Regions from separate parts of the Homo sapiens genome. Here regions 1, 2 and 3 are each linked to region 4. Evidence: fine-mapped expression QTL. A gene starts in region 4. Each other region holds a variant in brackets. All regions are shown on one strand. Distances are between the middles of the regions. Region 1 has its middle 20 kb from the start of NINJ1. Region 2 overlaps SUSD3 (sushi domain containing 3). Region 3 overlaps WNK2 (WNK lysine deficient protein kinase 2). Region 4 holds the start of NINJ1 (ninjurin 1).

Evidence for each region. PIP is the estimated chance that this variant, and not a neighbour inherited with it, causes the effect.
Region 1: its variant is the best candidate, but not a certain one, in a credible set for the expression of NINJ1 in whole blood (INTERVAL, PIP 0.70).
Region 2: its variant is the best candidate, but not a certain one, in a credible set for the expression of NINJ1 in whole blood (INTERVAL, PIP 0.81).
Region 3: its variant is the best candidate, but not a certain one, in a credible set for the expression of NINJ1 in whole blood (INTERVAL, PIP 0.84).

The regions. Positions count from the first base shown.
Region 1 is chr9:93,152,037-93,157,179 of GRCh38, forward strand. No RefSeq gene overlaps it. Among named protein-coding and RNA genes, the nearest start is that of NINJ1, 20 kb to the left of the region's middle. RefSeq lists enhancers at 4,778-4,827, 4,868-4,927. The variant G/T (reference allele first, on the strand shown) is at 2,934.
Region 2 is chr9:93,079,111-93,084,253 of GRCh38, forward strand. SUSD3 (sushi domain containing 3) reads left to right here. Exons shown (of 5, transcript NM_145006.4): 4 at 361-492. Among named protein-coding and RNA genes, the nearest start is that of CARD19, 15 kb to the right of the region's middle. RefSeq lists an enhancer at 3,417-4,045. The variant C/A (reference allele first, on the strand shown) is at 2,059.
Region 3 is chr9:93,231,919-93,237,061 of GRCh38, forward strand. WNK2 (WNK lysine deficient protein kinase 2) reads left to right here. Exons shown (of 30, transcript NM_006648.4): 5 at 2,890-3,047. Among named protein-coding and RNA genes, the nearest start is that of WNK2, 50 kb to the left of the region's middle. The variant G/A (reference allele first, on the strand shown) is at 2,373.
Region 4 is chr9:93,132,324-93,137,466 of GRCh38, forward strand. NINJ1 (ninjurin 1) reads right to left here and starts at 1,928. Exons shown (of 4, transcript NM_004148.4): 1 at 1,820-1,928. The coding sequence starts at 1,894. LOC124902212 (a long non-coding RNA gene) reads left to right here and starts at 689. Exons shown (of 3, transcript XR_007061665.1): 1 at 689-1,270. RefSeq lists enhancers at 1,133-1,182, 2,642-3,238 and silencers at 1,473-1,722, 1,893-2,122, 2,623-2,672.

The DNA.
Region 1 (5,143 bases), 20 kb after region 4:
GAATGTTTTAAAGGCAGCATCACAACTTATCACCAAATGTGTGTCCTCCCTCTGGTGTCCAGCCTGACCTTGGGAGATGGTGGCCAGAGAATTCATCCTTGGGCACGCTGCCAGAGTTGGGCCTCATCTCTGGGATGCTGTTGGCCTTCTCCTCAGGGTTGCTGCCTCCTGGTCACAATAGGGCTGCTTGAGGTCCAGACAGCATGTCTGTGTGAAGTCCAGGGAGAAACAGGGAGGAGATCACAAGCCACATGGGCCCCCTTTTCTCTTAAAAGCAAAGGCCCTAAATTTCCCCGGTAGACTGCACCTTAAGTTTCAGGGCCACCCTTATCTTTGAGGAAGGCTGGGAAATACGGAACTGAATTGGCCACATCTTGACCTGTCACCTGGACTGAATATGCTGTCCCCTGGGGCAGAGAATGGATATATCCAGTATCCATTCTTTCATTCTTTTTTTTCTTTTTGAGATGGAGTTTTGCTCTTGTTGCCCAGGCTGGAGTGCAATAGCACGATCTCAGCTCACCGCAACCTCTGCATCCCAGGTTCAAGCGATTCTCCTGCCTCAGCCTCCTGAGTAGCTGGGATTACAGGCGCCCACCATGACGCCTAGCTAATTTTTGTATTTTTAGTAAAGACTGTATTTTTAGTAGTTTCACCATGTTGGCCAGGCTGGTCTCGAACTCCTGACTGCAGGTAGCAGTGCTACCTGAAGTCCTACCCAGAGTGCTGGGATTACAGGCATGAGCCACCTTGCCCCACCACAAAATGTTTTTGAGGCTCATCCATATTGCTACCTGGATCAGCAATTCTGAAGTCCTTCTCCCTGCTAACCAGCACGCCACTGTTGGGATGCACCCCAGTGTGTTTATCCATGTACCTGGGGAATAGACGTTTGGGTTGTTCAGCTTTAGTTGTTACAAATAAATCTATTCCTTAAGACACTGGTGTGTAAGTACTTGTTTACTCAAACAAGTACTTCTCCTGAGTAAACAGAATTAAATTTCCACATTATATAGTAAATGTATGTTTAGTTTTATAAGAAACTGACAGACCATTTTCCAGAGTGGCTGTGTGTTCCATTTGCTCCGTGTCCTAACACTTGATATTTTCCGGGTTTTGAGATTTTAGCCATTATAATGTGTTTGAAGTAGTAACTCACTGAGGTTTTAGTTATCCGTTCCCTGGTGACTAATGGTATTGCACACAAATTCGTGTTCATTAGCTCTTCATATATTTTCTTTTCTTTTTTTTGAAATGGAGTCTCGCTCTGTTGCCCAGGTTGGAGTGCAGTGGTGCAATCTCGGCTCACTGCAAGCTCCGCCTCCCCAGGTTCACACCATTCTCCTGCCTCAGCCTCCTGAGTAGCTGGGACTACAGGCGCCTGCCACCACGCCCGGCTAACTTTTTGTATTTTTAGTAGAGACGGGGTTTCACCATGTTAGCCAGGATGGTCTCGATCTCCTGACCTCGTGATCCGCCTGCCTCAGCCTCCCAAAGTGCTGGGATTACAGGCATGATTCACTGCGCCCAGCCAGCTCTTCATATATTTTCTTTTGTGAAGGGTCTGTTCAGGTCTTTGGCTCATTTTAAAATTCAGGTCCATCTAAAAAAATTTTTGTTTTAATTAGCTGGGCATGGTGATGCATGTCTGTAGTCCCAGGTACTCAGGAGGCTGAGATGGGAGGATTCCTTGAGCCCAGGAGGTCAAGGCTGCATGCCGTGAGCTGTGATTGTACCTCTGCACTCTAGCCTGGGCAACAGAGAAAGATTGCATCTCTAAAAAATAATAATAAAATCCAGGTTATTCATTTTTTAGCATTGACTTTTAAAAGGAGTTCTTTATATATTATGGATATGTGGTTTTTTTTTTTTTTTGAGATGGAGTCTCACTCTGTCACCCAGGCTGGAGTGCGGTGATCCGATCTCGGCTCACTGTAACCTCTGTCTCCTGGGTTCAAGCGATTCTCCTGCCTCAGCCTCCTGAGTAGCTGGGACTACAGATGTGCACCACCACGCCCGGCTAATTTTTGTATTTTTAGTAGACACGGGTTTCACCATGTTGGCCAGGCTGGTCTCGAACTCCTGACTTCAGGTGATCCACCCCCCTCAGCCTCCCAAAGTGCTGGGATTACAGGCATGAGCCACCGTGCTGGGCCTGGATACATGTTCTTTTTCAGATATAGTTGTAAATATTTTTTCCAGTTCTATGTCTTGTCTATTATTTTCTTAATAGTGTCTTTTGATAAGCAGAAGGTTTAAATTTTTGAAGCCCACCTGGCCAAATTTTACGGTTATTTCTTTTGGCATCCTGTCCAAGAGGTCTCTTTTTTCCCCTAGGGTCACTGCATCAGTTCACTACCTCTGAGCTCCAAGTCACCCTTCAGTTCCTGCTCTGGGATAACATTTCTCCCTCCCAGTGAGTGCAGTGCCAGCCTTTTGGCAATAGAGGGCGCTGGGGGCACTGTAGGAGGAGGAAGGGGCTCTTCTGTGGACTCCCACAGCTGCAGGGCAGGTCCATGGTGTGGGGTGCTGGCCATGTACTCCAAATGCGCGTCCCCTTTCGACCCTGGCTGGTGACTACCTTTCCATCCCCTCTTGATCTGGAATTCCACATGCTCCAGGCCTGCCTACACCCAGACTCGCTGCATACCTGGCCGGCGGGGCCCCAGTTCCACAGTGCCTGCACCCCACCAGCAGCGGCTGCAGACTAGCCCGGGCCAGGCAAACCCGTGGACTTAGCAGCAGACAAAAGCACATCTAGAGGGCCTCAAATACACCTTCTCTGTGGAGGCCTCACTCCTTCCACATGGGCCTTCCTGGTGCCTCGCTCGGCCCTCGAGCACCTGAGTTTTCTTACATCTTCTCAGTGTGTTTCCTATCCCTGATGACACAGCCACAGAGATACTCCTCTATGTCTTCCTCTGGAAGCTTTA[G/T]GTCTGTGATCAATGTGACATGATTTTTCTTTTGCCATCTTAACTATGTTTTTTTTTTTTTTTTTGAGACAGAGTCTCGCTCTGTCGCCCAGGCTGGAGTGCAATGATGTGATCTTGGCTCGCTGCAACCTCTGCCTCCCGGGTTAAAGCGATTCTCCTGTCTGAGTAGCTACTCCTCCTGAGTAGCTGGGTCTACAGGCACGTGCCACCACGCCGAGATAATTTTTGTATTTTTAGTAGAGATGGGGTTTCGCTATGTTGGCCAGGCTGGCCTTGAACTCCTGACCCCAGGTGATCCACCCGCCTTGGCCTCCCAAAGTGCTAGGATTACAGGCATGAGCCACCGCGCCTGGCCTTAACCATGTTAAGTGTATAGTTCAGTAGTGTAAATATATCCAGATTTATGAAACAGACCTCTAGAGCTTTTTCATTATCCCAAACTGAAACTCTGTCCCCATTCAATGCTGACTCCCCATTCCTCCCTCCCCCAGGCCCTAGCAGCCGCCATCCGACTCTCTGTTTCTATGAATGCAACTCCTCTGGGTATCACATATACGTGGAATCATGCAGTATGTGTCCTTTTGTGATCAAGTTATTTCATTTAGCATAGTGGCCTCAAGGTTCATCCGTGTGTAGCATGTGCCAGAATGTCCTTCTTGTTGAGACTGAATAACATTCCATCATATGGAGACACCACATTTTGTTTATCTGCTCATCTGTTGCTGGACACTTGTGTTGCTTCCGTATCCTGGCTCTGTGGATAATGCTGCTGTGAACCTGGGTGTGCAGATAGAAGAAAATGTGTCAGTGAATGCGGCAGGTAGCAATAAGGAGATGACTTCCCAGTGCCTGCTCAGTGCTAACACGGGGCAGTGAGGCTCCGGGAGGTGATGGGGGAAGGGTGTCAATGGAGCCATCCAAAGCCAGCACATGGTGTTTAGGATTTAGAAGACAAGCAAACAAGTGCAGCGTGGCCTGAGGCTGTGCTTTTTCTGCGCTGGTCATGCTGGGACCCAAGAGGCATTGGTACTGTGCTATCCGCCTCCCTGCCTCCCCTCCACACTTTCTCTCACACGCCCCTCCCCTCTTAGTTGACTATAAACCTATTTTCACAAGTGTTCAGTGTGAGAAGGGCTCTTGACTAAGTTAAGGCTCAGGCACTGGGCTCGGAAGCGGCTGAGCGCCCAACCCCGTGTGTGGGACCGCTGCCTGCGCAGAGGGGGCAGCCCAGTGTGGGGCCTCCGCAGAACGTCACTTCAGCCTCTTTGTTCACTGGCATCTGTGGAGCCTTTTCCATTCTGGGCTGCCATCCCTTTGGCACCCAGAGGGCTTTCCTGACACCCAAACAGCAGATGGTCAGGAAATGAAGACTCACACTAACATCAACCAGAGGAAAATCTAATTCAATTGGTAGAATCTGCAGTCAGGGAAGCATGTGGCTGGACACATGTCATCTTCTTAGGGCAATGCCCTCTGCCAGTGGGACAGTAAGTGCTAGAAACCGTGGGTGGTGTGGCCTTCGAAGGCCAATGACCTACAACCAACAGCTGGGCAGGCCGGGGCTGGTGGGAGTTTATGTCCTCCTCTGGGTCAGCTTCTCTCCTAGGCTCACGGGAGTCCCTAGGCTTCAGGCCTGGGTTCCCTTCTCCCTGCTGCAGGTACGGGGTTACTGGGGGATGCTCAGCTGGAGCACCTGCCGTGAGCCAGGCCCTGCGCCAGGGGCTCTATATGCTTTGTCACTCAGGGCTAAGTGTCGCTATGAGTGACACAAACGGCAAAGTACCAGTTGCTTAAACAAGACAGTCATTTCTTTACTACACAAATGATGTCTGGAGGCATGCTGTACATGGCTGCGGTGGCAGCTCCACATTCTCAGACACCCATTTCCTCCCAGCTTCCTGCCCTGGCTTTCTCCACGTGTAGCCTCCACCTCATGACCTAAGATAGCTGCTTGAGTTCCAGTCATCAAGCTTGCATCCCAGCCAGCAGGAAGGAGGAAGGGAGGAAGAAAGGTGCGCTCTGACCCTCCAAGACACTTCTCAGAGCTTTCTGGACACTTTCACTCATGTGTCGTGGCCAGAACTTCACCAAGTGGCCATACCTAGCTACAACGGAAGCTGGGAGATGTAGTTTCTACTCCAGGCAACCATGTTCTCAACTAAAGTTCAGGGTTTCTATGCCTAAGGAAGAAAAAGAGAATGAATAGCGGA
Region 2 (5,143 bases), 53 kb before region 4:
CCTTTTTAACGTCTACAGTTCAGTAGCATTAAGTATGTTCACGATGTAGTGCAGCCATTAGCACTGTCCAGCCCTAGAACTTTCCACCACCTGTATTTGTAAGTAAAGTTTTATTGGAACACAGCCATGTTCATTGTCTACTGGTGTGTGGCTACTTTTGGGCTGCAATTGCAGAGTTTAGCTGTGGGAGAAATCATGTGTCTCACCACACCAAAAACATCCACTGCCCAGCTCTTTGAGAGGTTTGCCAGCCTGCACTGGTCCTGCAGACGGTGCCCTGGGCCTACATGGAGCCTGTTTCCACCACCGTCAGGGATACACCTGCATGCTCAGAGTCCTTCCTCCCAAACTCTCCTCCAGGTCAGCCCAGCTGTGGTCCCAGCTGAAAGATGAGGACTTGGAGACGGTGCAGGCCGCATACCTTGGCCTCAAGCACTTCAACAAACCCGTGAGCGGGCCCAGCCAGGCGCACGACAACCACAGCTTCACCACGTGAGCCCGGGTCTGGGTAGGGGACATGCTGGGGGACAAGGGGTCCAGCTTGGTCAGGCCCCGGGCCACCTGCTGCTCCCACACGCTGAGAGCCTGCTGCTCCCACACGCCTAGCCCACCCAGAACCTTAACTCCCATCTCTAAAACAAGAGGCTGGTGGTCCTTGTAGCACTCTGTCCTGACTCTGACATTCTAGGACTCAGAACTGCCCCCAGCAGTGTTTTCATCTGGAGGGTCCACCCTCCAGGGAAGCTGAAGCTTCTACACACCTGTGTTCCCTCCACCTACACCCAGCAGGGCTCTGCACTGAGCTGCAGTCACTTGCTCTCCCTCCCGTGCTCTGTCCCTCTCCTTTCTCTCTCTCTTAATACACACATACATTTTTTTGCCCTGAACCAATATAAGGACATTCTTTTTCTGAGTCCAGAAATTTAATACTGATTGGCCAGGCTTGGTGGCTCACACCTGTAATCCCAGCAGTTTGGGAGGCTGAGGTGGGAGGATCACCTGAGGTCAGGAGTTCGAGGCCAACATGGTGAAATCCCGTCTCTACTAAAAACACAAACATTACCTGGGTGTGGCGGAGTGTGCCTTTAATCCCAGCTACTTGGGAGGCAGAGACAGGAGAATCACTTGAACCCAGGAGGCGGAGCTTGTAGTGAGCCAAGGTTGTGCCACCGCACTCCAGCCTGGGCGACAGAGCGAGACTCCGTCTCAAAAAAAAAAAAAAAAAAAAAACAAAACTAACAGAAATCTAATATTGATTGCACGTGGCCTGTTGAGTGGAGAATGTCCATAATCACACGCAGCACTCAGCCACCAGGTCTCTGGGCTCCTTAAACTGGTATGGGCCTTCAGTTTTTCATGGCATAGTCTTCTGAGGGTTCCAGGCCAGTGGTCGCATGCAGAGGCTCCTGTCTGCGTCTGTCTGGTGTTTCTGTGTGACCAGGCCCGGCTCTGCATTTCTGGTGCAGGGCTACATGTGCAGATCACAGACATGGGCCAGGCTGCCCCCACGGGCCACATGGAATGGGGTCTCTTGGCTGAGGCGAAGCCCCCCAGGTCCCTCCACTGTCAGAGCCTGAGGAAGGGGCTCTGCAAGTGTCCCTCCACTGTCTCAGCGGCCTCTGACTTGTGGTCTCAGCGTGCAAGGCTGATCCTGCCAGATCCGCTCTTGCCTTGGGCATTACAGAATGGTGACTTTGTTAATTCTGTTGCACTTCTGACATTCCTTCTATCAGGGATGAGGATGAGCTGTTTTTTTCTTTCCTTTCTTTTGATTTTGTTTTGTTGTTTTAGCATCACATGAACTCATGAATATTCTTTTCTGAAACTTTTATTTTGGGAAAAGTTCACAAATACACAAAAGTAGAATATTGTCACAGATCTCCTGTCCCTGCCTCCCATTCTCATGGTCACCAGCTAAGCCAGGCAACCTCATTCATGCCCCTTCCCCCACATTATTTTCAAGCACACTTTTTGTGGGCTCCAGTTCTTGGCAGTAGGAGCTCTGCCAAGCCATGGCCTGTGTCCTTCTGATCCATCCCCATCAGTCTGTGAGTGCTT[C/A]CTGCCTTGCACAAGATGTTCCAGGCCCATCTCATGCTTTCTGTGCCCATCTCTGCGGTTGGCCACTGCTCTGGGAGCCCTGTTTCTGTGGGTGGAGAACAGCGCTTAGACACCGGGGTCTGGGCGGGCATCCAGACGACATCATTGAGCTTGTGTTCCCTTCCTTCAGGCCCTCCTGCTGGAGTCTTTCGAGGCTGCAGTGCACTTGGTCCCAGCCCTCATGGCCTCACTGTATGACTAACAGCTCCATGCCTCGGTTTCCTCACCTGTAAAGTGAGGATTGCAGTAGCGCTCACCCTTTCAAGTTGTTGAGGTTACCTGAGTCCGGGTGTGTGCCTCTCTCGCCAGGCCCAGGGTGAGAGCTCATTGAATACTGGCTGTTACTGTCGTTGCCACTCTTACGACCTTATGCAGATGGGGAAACTGAGGCACAGGAGATGGTGGTCTCTGTGGCCCTGGGTTACACACACCGTGCTGGGTCTGGCCAACACCTGCAGGGAAGGAATTCACCTTTCTGTCTCCTTTCCTGACGCTTCAAGTGTGTATTACATCAACAAGGATGTAGCCGAAATGCTGCCATTGATACTTCTGCACTTAGCAACACGTTCCAGGTCACCATGGTGGTCTGAGGCCTCCAGGCTATCATTCCTTACAGCAGCCCATTATTCCAAAGCTTCCAATATCTGCTAGACCCTCCCCTGTTGAGTGGTCAGGCGTGGTCAGTGTCTTTTTGCTTAGTGCTGTTTTTCTTTTTCAAGACCACAACTCTTGGGGCTGATCCTAGGAATCGATTGTTTAGGCCCAACAGTCTGAATATTTTATGACCACATTCTTTCCCTGGGAGCTCTGGTACAAGTGAATGTGGCCATATTTTTCTGGTAACTGCATCATCACTGAGTGCTGACCATTTGTTTATCATTTGTTTCTTACAGTAGCTACAAGTTGTGTGGGTAGTTTCCGTCAGCATTTCTTTGATGAATGTCGAGGAAGAATGTTTTCTCCAGCCTTGGCTCACCAGTGCCATTGCTGGCATGAGTCATTTTCTGTTTTCTCTGCTGAATTACCTCCAAATGTTTTGCTCCATGTGTTGTGGGAGGGCACCTGACCCATCAATTGGCTGTACATTTTTTAGGCCTCTTTCCTTTTTTTTTTTTTTTTTTTTTTTTTGAGGCGGAGTCTTGCTCTGTCGTCCAGGCTGGAGTTCAGTGGCGCGATCTCGGCTCACTGCAAGCTCCGCCTCCCGGGTTCACACCATTCTCCTGCCTCAGCCTCCCAAGTAGCTGGGACCACAGGTGTCCGCCACCATGCCCAGCTAATTTTTTGTATTTTTAGTAGAGACAGGGTTTCACTGTGTTAGCCAGGATGGTCTCGATCTCCTCACCTCGTGATCTGCCCACCTCGGCCTCCCAAAGTGCTGGGATTACAGGCGTGAGCCACCGTGCCTGACCCCCTTTCCTTTTTATTTTAGTTTTGTTGGGGCCATGGTGGCTAATGCCTTTCCTTTTGGGTAGTGAGATATCCAAAGCCACTTTCAGAGCTCCTCCATTGCCCCACCTGTGATCCCCACTCCCCATTACAGCACTGGGACCAGATCATCCTGTGTCATAACTGGGAAAGTGCCCATGGAATGGGGGAAGGAACAATTGCCTCTCAAGGCAACATGGTGTCCAGGATGATGGCAGCCACAGCTGCTGCCGCTGCCGCAGGGGCTTTGCTGGCCAGAGCATGATGCCGAGGGGCTCCCAGGGGTGCTGTTTGGGGCCACACTTCTGCCTGGTCCCAGCGCCACAGACCCTGCCTCTTACACTGCGGGAACTTGTGCAGTGTGTGGTCGGACGTGTGCGTCCCGTCCAAGAGTGGCCACAGATCTGTGTACAGGGCTGTGTTCACCCCCTCTGGGGAGTGAGAGAGCCAGGGCGGGAGGGAGGCACCCTGACAGGGCCGTGAGAGGCTGGAGGAGGCCGGCTTAGGGGCCACTCTGACAGTCAGCTCAAGAGGCAGGAAGTGGTGGTGAGGCTGAGGGGGATTGGGAGGGGGACCCTTAGGGCAGAGCCCCTTCCCGGAGCTCTCTCACACATGGAGACCTCGAGCACTCAGCCCAGCTTCATGGGGACTCAGAGAAGGCGGGTCCTGCCCAGGGCTACAAAGCCGATGGAGGCAGAGTTCCCTGAGTCCCCAGCCCTGGGCCCCGGGCTCCCAGGCAGGATCCTCGGGATATGCCTGTGCTGGGGCTGCCCACCCCTCAGGCAGGGCCCAGGCTGCCTCCATAGGTGGTAAATTGCCTTTAGCAAGGTGAGGTTTGCCTCTTGACCTTGTTTTTATTTCATAAGTACTTCTCAGCACTTGCAATGTGCCAGGCACTGTTCTGAACTCTTCCAAATATTAACTCTTTTCACCTAGGGGTGGGTACTACTTTTATCCCGTTTTCCAGGTGAAGAACTAGGCAGGTTAAGAAACTTGTGTAGACTCCCACACAACCAGTAAGTGAGGCTGGGTGGAGTCAGTCTGGCTCCTGCCTCCCCGAAGCTGCCTTTCGTCTCCACCAGTTATTGATGCTTTCACTTACTCATTGCATAAGCAGATCATTTCTTAATTCCTACTACTTACTAGAGTTTTTCTGAGAATTAGTTGTGGGTGGGAGCCGTGATCCAGGAAGGCTTCCTGGAAGAGGTGATGCCGGAAGTGAAAGGACTAAGAGAGCCTGCTTTGGGAGGGGAGAGAGACAGCCTCTGAGGGGAGGAGAGGACATGCAAAGGGCTGGAGGTGGGAGCCGCCAGGCAGCCCACATGGAGCAGAGGCCAGTGTGTGTGTGGAGGCTGGAGATGGGACAGGGCCAGGGTCTGGTCAGCCTGGGGAATGGCTTGGTTTGTATCTGGGGGAGTAGAGAGCCACAAGAGTACTGAGGGTGGAGCAGGTGGGTGATCCAGCTCCTGGCTACCAAAGAGGCAGGCCTGGCAGGAGGGAAGATGTCCTCCCCTTGACCTCCTGCTCCCCAGCATCCCTTCTCTGCCTGGGACATCCCAGGCCCTGGCCAGACAGCTGGGTTCCTGGTGGTTTCTGCACACTCTGAATGAGCCCCAGGAAG
Region 3 (5,143 bases), 100 kb after region 4:
TCCACGGACTTTGAAAAGAATGCCTGGGTGGCTGTGGAGCAGCTGTTTCTGGGGCCAGGATGATGGGAAAGCTGCAACATGTGCAGGGCAAGCAGCGTGGGTCGGGGCTCAGGAAGCCCAGATGGCACCCAATCGGATCAGATTGGGAGAGGCTCCCCCATGTTAATGAAGACCCAGCATGCCCCCAATGTGAGGGCAGGACAGTGAGCAGTCGATCTTGGGGCTTTGTGAATTCTTAGTTCTGCTGCATGTTTGGGGACAGAACTTGGCAGGTGTGGGGAAAATGAGACTCCAGAGCTGCTTTGGTTTGGGAAGTCTGTTCAGAATGTGACATCTGGGGCAAGGTGGCTGCCCGGGGGTGGCCCTGTGTACACAAAGCCTCTGGCATTCTGGGGGAGCTGAGTGGTGGAGCGTAGGGGCTGACCCAGGGTTCAGTTTCCCCATCTGTGAAATGGGTATATAGGTGAGGGTCTCCACTCCCTCCTGGAGGGGCTGAGAGCAGGGGCCCAGGACCGTGGAGAGCCCATGCCCAGGGCTTTGAGCTCTGTGCACTTTCTGGGCAGATTTTGCAAATTTGGCTTCAGAAGTGGTAGGAACCCAGGTCTCAAACCCCGGGCGCAGTCAGGTGGCAGGAGGGAGGCTTGTGATCTCCTACTCAGGAGTGAACACTCCTGGAGGAAGAAGCACAGCCCACTGTGAAGCGGCAGCCCCGGCAGAGCCCCTCGTCTTCCTCTGGCTGGGCGGCTCTTTGCCCTCTTGGAAACGAAGTTTCGAGTTGCTGGATCAGGTTGAGATGAAGGCCAGGTGTTTCCAGCAGGCACAGTGGGGAGACCTTGTGACCCGCATGGTTGCCCAGCTCTGTGGGCTGTCCCTCGTCAACCCAGCTTTTGCTCAGCTGGAGTCCAGGAAGCTTTGGTTAGAGAGGCCACAACCAGGAGTGTCCTCAGCTGCTCAGTCTCCTAGAGAATGAGGCTGAAGCAGGAGAATTGCTTAAGCTCAGGGGTTCGAGGCTAGTCTAGGCAATGTAGTGAGATCCCTGTCTCTACAAAAAAAAAAAAAAAAAAAAAGGCGGGGGAAGGAAGGAAAGAGAGAGAAATAAAGAAAGAAAGAAAAGAAAGAGAAAGAAAAAGAAATTGGCCCGGCATGGTGAACACCTGTAGTCCCAGCTACTTGGGAGGCTGAGGTGGGAGGATTGCTTGAGACTGGGAGGTCGAGGTTGCAGTGAGCTGTGTTCATGCCACTGCACTCGAGCCTGGGCGACAGGGCACGATCCAGTCTCAAAAAAAAAAAAAAAAAAAATTGCTAGTGCAGCAAATTTTCAGTATAATCATGTGGTTAAAAAACCCAAAAGAATAAAAGTTCCCGGCGTCAGGCCCCTCCACTCAGCTCCTGTTGTTTCTCATGGGTTCTTCCAGAGTTCTGTGTGCCTAAGACTGAAATCTAAACCATATTCTTGTCCCAATTTTTATCCAAAATGTTAACTTTAAAAAAGAGTGGCCAGGCACAGTGACTCACACCTCTAATCCCAGTACTTTGGGAGGCTGAGGCGGGCGGATCATTTGAGGTCAGAAGTTCGAGAACAGCCTGACCAACATGGTGAAATCCTGTCTCTACCAAAAATACAAATAAATTAGCCAGGCATGGCGGCAGACGCCTGTAGTCCCAGCTACTTGGGAGGCTGAAGCAGGAGAATTGCTTGAACCTGGGTGGGAGATGGAGGTTGCAGTGAGCCAAGATTGCACCATTGCACTCCAGCCTGGGGGACAGAGTGAGATTCCGTCTCAAAAAAAAAAAAAAAAAAAAGTAACACATTTTAAATTGAAATGACGGGTAAACAAAACGTGCTTTTAAAATGCACTAATTAGTTAGCTTGAGCTTTTAAAAAGAAACTAGAAATTTTGAAGACCTTCCAAAGTCAACAAACATCCAGACGTTAAAAGCAGCTGTACTGAAGTCTCTAGTCCCTTTCTTTGCATTCAGCGCGACAGACATGCAACCGGACTTATTTTATTAAAAAGGCCTTTACAGTTGCTGTATTATGAAAGCTAAAGCTTATTATAGAGAATAGAGAAACCCCAGACCAATATAAGTAAAATAAAAATCAGCCCTCGCCCCCTGCAGACATCATCTTGCCCTGGGGGTTTGGTTTTGCATAGGTGAGGCCAGCCAGCACGTCTAGCCTCATGCTCATTTTGCTCAGCCTATCATAACTTTGCCATGTCCTTAAAAATTCAGTGAAGACACTGTTTTTGCATCTCTTGTGTTTAGGAGCCACATACAGTTCCCATCTTAGCAACTCTGTGGTTCTGTCAGGTGGGTACCATTTTCTACCCCACCCTCATTCAGGGACACTGTCTTCAGTGATGCTGACT[G/A]TTGTACATGCTGCGTGACACTTGTAGGGGTGGGCTGAGTGTACCCAGCCTTTCCCCACTTTGGGACATTTAGGGGTTTTGTGGCTTTAGGTAGCTCCGTAGCAACCCAAGTTCTTTCTGCTCCAGGGTTTCTGAACGTGGCTGCGGCCGAGCCTGTGGCAGGATCATAGTGTCCACAGGCGAGGGCGTACTCAGGGTTTTGCCTCCTTCCAGGCTCGGACCCCGTCCCCTGGGAAGTCATAGTCTCCCAGCTTATGAGCAGGGGATGGCTCTGTCACCTGATTTCTAACCCTGGACTCCTGTGGTTCCAGGTGGAACTTTTGGAACCCTGTCTGTAAAGCACACCTGTGTCCCAAGTGAGGGGCAGGGCTGGCCCTGGGGTCCAGGTGTTCTGAGTGTGCCATGGGATGTGGAGGGGACATGGGGTTCTGGGCAGCCAAAGCTCCCGGGACACTGGCTCCAGCTCTTCCTGGGCCCGTGGCCAGCTGACAGCTGCGTCTGTTGCTTCCGGGCACAGGTACTCCCGAGTTCATGGCGCCCGAGATGTACGAGGAGCACTACGATGAGTCCGTGGACGTCTATGCCTTTGGGATGTGCATGCTGGAGATGGCCACCTCGGAGTACCCCTACTCGGAGTGCCAGAATGCGGCCCAGATCTACCGCAAGGTCACCTGTGTGAGTCCACCTGGCCCCTTGGTTAATTAATAAGGACACAGAGGCCTTGGGCCGTACCCTGGGCTGGGCTCCATGTGGCTCTGTAAAGCCATCCTGGCAGCTGTGTAAGGAGCTTGGCCATTTTGCAGAGGGGGAAACTGAGGAGATTGGCCATTTTACAGAGGGGGAAACTGAGGCTTAGTAGCGGGGTGGTTACTCAAGGTCTCCTACCTGAAGGGATGGTGGTGCATGGGGTGCTGTGGGCAGTGCTTACCCATGGAGGCTGTCGCTCTCACAGCAGGGATGGTGGGGAGACTGAGGCTCAGAGAGGCTGGAGCTTCACCATAGCCCCCTGCCTGGAGGCGTGCCTAGGCCACCCATCCCCAGTGCTCACACTCTGGGCCGCCCATGGCTGCCTGCTTTCCTATCTTCTTCATTTTGAAACAATGGTTTGATTTCTTTTTCAGCTAAACCAGTCACTCCTACACCAAGTGTGTCTCTAGGCAGTCGTCAGCGCCAGGCAGCTGGGAACGTTAATCCCTGTTTTGCTGTCGCTGTGATTTTTTTCTTTAATCGGACGGCTTCAGCTGCATAAACAGATCTGTCTTGTCCTCCCTCTGTGGTGGCCCCACTGGGTGGAGGGAATGCAAACAGAACATCTGGAAATGGAATGGCCAGGCCAAGGCTTTCTGTGCCTGTTTTCTGCACCACCCGTCTTGTTGTGAAGCCCAGGGGCCTGCAGAGCTGTCCCTGACATGCGGCGTCTGCACTGAGGGCCCAGGCTGCCCTGATCCCTGCAGTCCCTGCTGTCTCCACATGCCACCTGACTGGGTGGGGCCGCGCTGCCCCTCAGTGCTGCTCTGCGGGGCCATGGCTGCTTCTGCAGGTGCACCAGGGGCTGTGGTCCTCAGCAGCTGCACAGCCTCACTCTGACCCATCCCTCCATCCCGAGCCCTCCTTGCAGATTACCTGCATTTCTGTCCCTTGGTTGTTGTAAATCATCGGTCACTTGGTTGTTCTGAGCCCCTCCTGTGTGCCCCTGAGGAAGTGGGAGGGCAGACAGAGTCCTTGACTCACCTGTGGGCCTGGGTCAGAAACTTCACAGACAGGTGCACAGTTTTCCGTGGGTACTGGAAGGAGTGTCAGGACCTGCTGGCTGTGTGCAGCGGCCCTCCAGGGAGGCAGGGATGGTCTGCAGCAGGAGGAAGTGGGGCGCTCCAGAGATTAAGAGCTCCATTTGCCAGGCCTTGGGGTGCTGGTGTGGGATGGGAGGGCCCCTGGGTTCACTGTGGAGGGTGGATGGTGGTCTGTCCTGAAGCTGTCCCAGGGGCTGGTGGTGCTCCTCGACCCTGGGGGTGTACACTACTGGGCAGAGCCCTTAGGTTCTTCACTCCTGTGTCTGCCCCAGGCTGGGGGCTCCAGCACCCAGGGCAGGTGGGCGTGCCCCCACCCTCCTCCCTGACCTTGGGAAAATTTATGCTTTATGTTCTCTATATTAAGAGTCAGGTGAAGCTTTTGAAGGCTAAATCGTGTTGAAGGAGAAAGAACGTGATAGTTGGTACCCTCATTGTGTTTAAAATTTTTTAAAATTAGTTGCTCATACACCGTCTTACTCCACTTCCAACACAAAACAACCTAGCAGATTGCAAGCAGCACCTGGCCCCGCCCTGCTGCTTCTGAGTCCGGTTGCAGGGCTTGCCCTCTGCTCCCTTCATGCACAGCCATCAGCTGGGTGAGGAGCCACTGTCCCTCAGGCTGCCACCCGCACCCCCCCGCAACAAAGCCGCATGGCCTGGCCCTTGGCCAGCAGCAGTGACCACAAATAGTGCTCCTGCACCCTCAAGGAGGAGGTGTGGGGAGGAAGCCCAGGTGTGGTTAGAAAGGCCCGGCTCTGTAGGAGGCATCCCATCCACCGCATCATGGCGCTGCCTCTACTAGCCTCCTGGAACAGGGGCCCTCGTGGCCCTACTTGGGAGGCTCGGTGAAGCTCTGATCAACACCTTTCCAGAGACTGACTGCTGCATTTGAGGTGTTAACCCCAGTATCAAATTCTGCAGCTGAGGTGGAGGTGTGCAGTGTGTTGTGGCCGGGGTGATGGTGGCTTTGACAGAAGTAGG
Region 4 (5,143 bases):
CCCTGGACACCAGACCGTGATCAGGCCTGCAAGGCCCCTCCCATCGGCCTGGCTTCCCATCCCCCCACCTCCTACCTGGCCCTCATGTGCTCTGTGGTCCAGCCTCTGAGCCTTTGCTCCCACTGTTCCCTCTGCCTAGATGCCCTTCCACACATCTCAGAGAGCCAGATCTGCTCACCCACCTTCCCTGCCCTCCAGGGCTCAGAGCCAATGTCCCCACCTCCACAGAAAGCCTTCCCTGACCACCATGCCCCGCCCCCCACGATGGGCTCCCAGCCCCCAGGGAACCCCCTGCTTTGCCCTGGCCTCTCCTGCCCTGTCTGGGCTGGGCTGCTCTCCAACCGCGGCTTGGTGGGGCGGGGCTGTGTCTCTCTCCCTCTGGTGCCCAGAGCCAAGACAGTGATCCGGGAACAAATCCAACCCAATCTCCTCTGGGCTTGAGATGCACCCATCTCAGGAGGCACAGCCTATCCTGCCGCCCGCAGAAGTGAGCAGAGACTGCTCTGAGTGGAGGGCATTGCCCGGGCAAGGTCAGGGTTGGGGGAGGAGCAGTATCCCTTCCTTTCCAAGGCGCTTCCAAGCCACTGACCTGTTTATTACCTGACTTGCTTTCCCCACTTCCCTGAAGGCAGGAGAGACCCTTTGTTCTCTCTTTATAAGACCATGTCTAAAAGGCCCAGCGAGGTGTGGCAACTTCCCAAGGACACACAGCCGGAGGAGCCCCCTGCCTATTGCTCCAAAGTGCTCACACACTGGGGCAGGGCCAGGTCGCTGGGGTCCCGCACACCGGTCAAGTCCTGCAGTGCGACAGCTCCTCTCTAACCTAGGAACAAGTGTCCATGCAGCCCCAGGGCCATCCTATCCCGTGGCTCATGGGGCCCCGCCTCCCCGAACATGTCCTGTCCCCACAGCACCGGCCTAGGACTGTTCACCAGCGAGTGGGCAGAGTGTCTTTGCCCCAGTCTGGTCCACGCCATGGAGAGGCCTGGAAAAACCCAACAGGCTGCTGTTCCCTGCCCCCATCCCTGAGGGGGTTAGAAAAGGAAAGAATGTTCAAAGTAAACAAGTCACCAGAGGGCCATGCCAGGACCTTGCAACAAACACAAGGTGCTCAGTAAGTGCTGAGTCCTGGGATGAAGAATTCTGAAGCGGGACCACTACCAGGGCCTGCCCCCTGCCCACAGCCCTCCCAGGCCGGGCAGGGCAAGTTCTGGAGGGCCGGTGGCGGCATACACTGAAGGCTGTGTGACGTTTCTATTTCTCAAGGCAGGTGAGTGGAATAGGGACCACAGCGGGCCCCAAGTTCCCCCATCAAGGCACGCATCAGATTGTGTGGTCAGCGTGGGGTGACGTAACTGTCTGCATGCAGCTGGTCTGGAGCCCGGAGGCTGTGACTCCCCTCCGCCCGCCTCCGGGCAAAGTGCGCGGAGGAGCCGGCACGGCGAGGCTGAAGTTAGAGAGGCCCGCGCGAGAGTGGGGGGGAGGTCGGGAAAGCCGGGCGCCGGCAGTCCTTAGCCCGAGGAGCTGCGCCGAGGCCCCCTCCGCCGTGCAGCCAAGCGCGGGCGCTGCTTAGTGGGGCTGGGGACGCCAGCCCGCCCTGCGCCCCCACGCCCCCTCGTCCCGCCCACTTGCCGGGGGTGGCTGGAGCTCCCGGGGGCATCGTTCTGACCCTGATGGGGCGGGAAGGACTTGGCCTAGAGCGGGACGTCCCCCAACACTCTGCAGTGCGGACGCGGCGCACACAGGTGCCCGGGGAGCCGCGGCGCCCCGAAAGGACAGGGCCTGGCAAGATCATGCAGCGGTGGGGGGAAGGTCTTACCGAGGCGTCCGGGGAGCCGGGTGTGCCCGGAGGCAGGCCGCCGTTGAGCTCGTACTCCTCGGTTCCCGAGTCCATGGTGCGGCCGCCCAGGCCGCCAGGATCCGGGCCTGAGCGCGCCCGAGCCTCAGCCGCAGGCTCCAGCTGCGCGCCCGCCCCCGGCCCGCCCCCGGCCCGCCCGGCGGCGAGCTGCTGCCCCAGACTCCGCCTCCACCCGGGGCGGGCCCGGGGCCTGGAGGCTGTACGCTGAGAGCGCGCAGTTTGGGGCGACCCCAACCCCTCGGGCCTGAGACGGTCCCGCGGGGCCCCACAAGGGAGGGGGCGCGACGCCGATGGCCCCAGAGGACCCTGCGCTGCGTCTTGCTCTGAACCTCCGTCGCGGACACTTTTAATCCACAAAATGAGGCCAAGAACGACCTTTCCCTGGCCACCAGGCAAACTGCATGAAAGCGAGCGGGCGTTGCCGCTGGCGCCCACGCTGGGTTTTTCCCAGGCGGGGTTCGCCCTGGGAACCGCAGATCGCTCCAGCACAGCGCCTGCTGCGCCCCTAGTAACAGCGTCAGAGAGTCCGGGGTTCCCCTGATTGCGGGCCACGCTGACACAGGGCTTCCCACTCCCTGACCTTAGGTTTTCCTGCCTGGGAAATGGGGGTTATGAGGGCACAGACTGCTGGAGGGGCTGGGGGAGGCACAAAGGGGATGAACGTGCGCTGACTCATGGGCCCATCTGTGCCACCTGTGGCAGGGGGTGGGCTGGGGGCAGCACAGTGCCCAGAGCCCTGGCCAGATGCTAGGCGGGCCCCCACCTGTTGTATGATTGAAGTGGTTGTTTGGTCTCTGTTTCTCCATATGTTCATTCCTCAGCACTTTGCCCATCTGGGGGCCTGGGGGTCGAGAGCATGTGGCGGCCACCCTGGGAGGCCAGGGGAGTTCATCCTGACCACAGCATAGTCAGCTTGCGGCAGTATGGCCACTCTATTTCCAGAAGGGCAGTGGAAGGAAGGCCAGCTCAGACCCCAGGCTCTGTCCAGTCAGGCTGCCACCGGGACAGGAGGTAGGAGTGAGTGGGCATGGGCAGGGCAGCAGGATTGCGCTTGCCCTGATCCTCCAAACGGGGTCATCCCATGAAGGAGGAGCTGTCGTGGGCCCACTTCACAGCAGAGAAACTGAGGCTCAGGCTGTCACTGCCCCAGCTCTGCCTCAGAGGGGATCTGCAGGACAGGGTCTGGCACGGTGGCCCACGACGGGGATGGTTGCTGTTGTCCTCGCATAATCAGGGCACTGTTGGCACACCTGAGTGTTCACCAGCAGCTGGAAATCCAGCACCATTCACACAAAAAACTCTCTCACAGTATGGGACAAATCCCTATTCTGGGGGATAGTGCCTGCCCACGAGGGCTCAATTCCTGGAGGGGCAGGAGGTGTGGGACCACAGAGAAAATACGTCACACCCAGAAAGGGCCCTGGGAGCTGCAGGGGAGCCCTGAGACCTTGGAAGGCCAAGGGCGTGTAGAGAGGCCCCGAAGTAGGAGGGCTTGGCAGGTGGAGACCCCGTCCTGAGAGTATTCTTTCCTTTGTGCCATGTGGGAGCTCCTGCAGTGTGGTTCATCATTCCCATCCTTTTTTTTTTTTTTTTTTGAGATGGAGTCTTGCTCTGTCGCCCATGCTAGAGTGTAGTGGTGCGATCTTGGCTCACTGCAAGCTCCACCTCCCGGGTTCACACCGTTCTCCTGCCTCAGCCTCCTGAGTAGCTGGGACTACAGGTGTGCGCCACCACGCCCGGCTAATTTTTGTATTTTTGGTAGAGACAGAATTTCACCATGTTGGCCAGATCACCTCCTGACCTCAGGTGATCTGCCCGCCTCAGCCTCCTAAAGTGCTAGGATTACAGGCATGAGCCACTGCGCCTGGCCCCATTCCCACCTTCTAAGAGGAAGCCGGGAGGGTCGCAGCACCAGTGACAGTTGGGACATCAGCCTCGGGGTTTGTAAACCTGCTCTGTGCTGGCCGTCTGAGACCCTCTCCCAGCCTCAGTTTCCTCAGCTCCTGGGGCTGCTGGCAGGACGTGTGGGTGTCAGGGCTCAGGCAGGCTGCAGCGCTGGAGTTCCCTCGTCTGCTCCGTCATCCTCATTTGAGTATGTAGTGTCTGTTTTCCCCACTGTGCTCAATGCTGTTTACCCAACTGTTCTCTGCTGGATCCAACCCAGGACAAGTCTTAAAGGCACAGTGTACCCCGTGTCACCTCCATCTACCTTTTTTTTTTCTTTTTTTTGAGATGGAGTCTCGTTCTATTGCTCAGGCTGGAGTGCAGTGGCGCGATTTTGGCTCACTGCAAGCTCCGCCTCCCAGGTTCAAGCGATTCTCCTGCCTCAGGCTCTCGAGTAGCTGGGACTACAGGCGCCCGCCACCACGCCTGGCTAATTTTTTGTATTTTTAGTAGAGACGGGGTTTCACCATGTTAGCCAGGATGGTCTCGATCTCCTGACCTTGTGATCTGCCTACCTCAGCCTCCCAAAGTGAAAGGATTACAGGCGTGAGCCACTGCACCGGGCCCAACCACCTACTTTCAAGTTCTCCTGGAGACCATGAGTGCATGAGCTGTCCAAGACCAGTTTCTAGACGCTGACCCTGAGCTGAGGGACATGTCCCCAGGAGAGACACAGAGGAGGGGTGTGGCTGGGAGGAACGGGCTGGCAGATGCCCCAGCAGAGCAGCCCTATGTGTGGGTGGGTGTGCACACACAAACACTGTATATGTACGAGGGCCCCAGGCCTCTGTGGAGGAGCCCACAGGGTATCTCAGGATGCCTCTCTGGTGCCCAGGGAGGCTTGGTGCATCCCTCTCCCCCATCAAAGACTCTAGTGGATTCTTCTGGGGCTGGCGTTGTGTTGAGTTCAGATCTGCCCCTTCTGGCTTGGGATGTGCTTCCTCATATGTAAAGTGGGTATAAGGCAAGATGGCATGTGAGGACCATGGAGGTGTCACCCCAGCGTGCTCCTCACAGTGCCACCTCAAGCAGGTGGCTCCATCCCGCTGACCAAGAATGAGACCCCAGTGGGGCAGAGAACAGGCACACCGGAGGCTTGGACCTTCTACTCACCCACTGTCCTAGGAGCTGGGACTAAGCACGGTCTAAGCGACCCCCACCGCGTACTATGGGGAGTACAGTTGTGTCTCTCAGACCTGGGGGAACATGCGGTGAAAGCACCAAGCTGTTGAAAGGTCCATGGGTCAGATGGACCATGTTTTCACCTACAGAAAGCCTTCAGAAGCAGCCAGTCCCTGGCCTCCTCCACCTCGGAGAGGCTTGCAGGCAGGTATGCCGTTT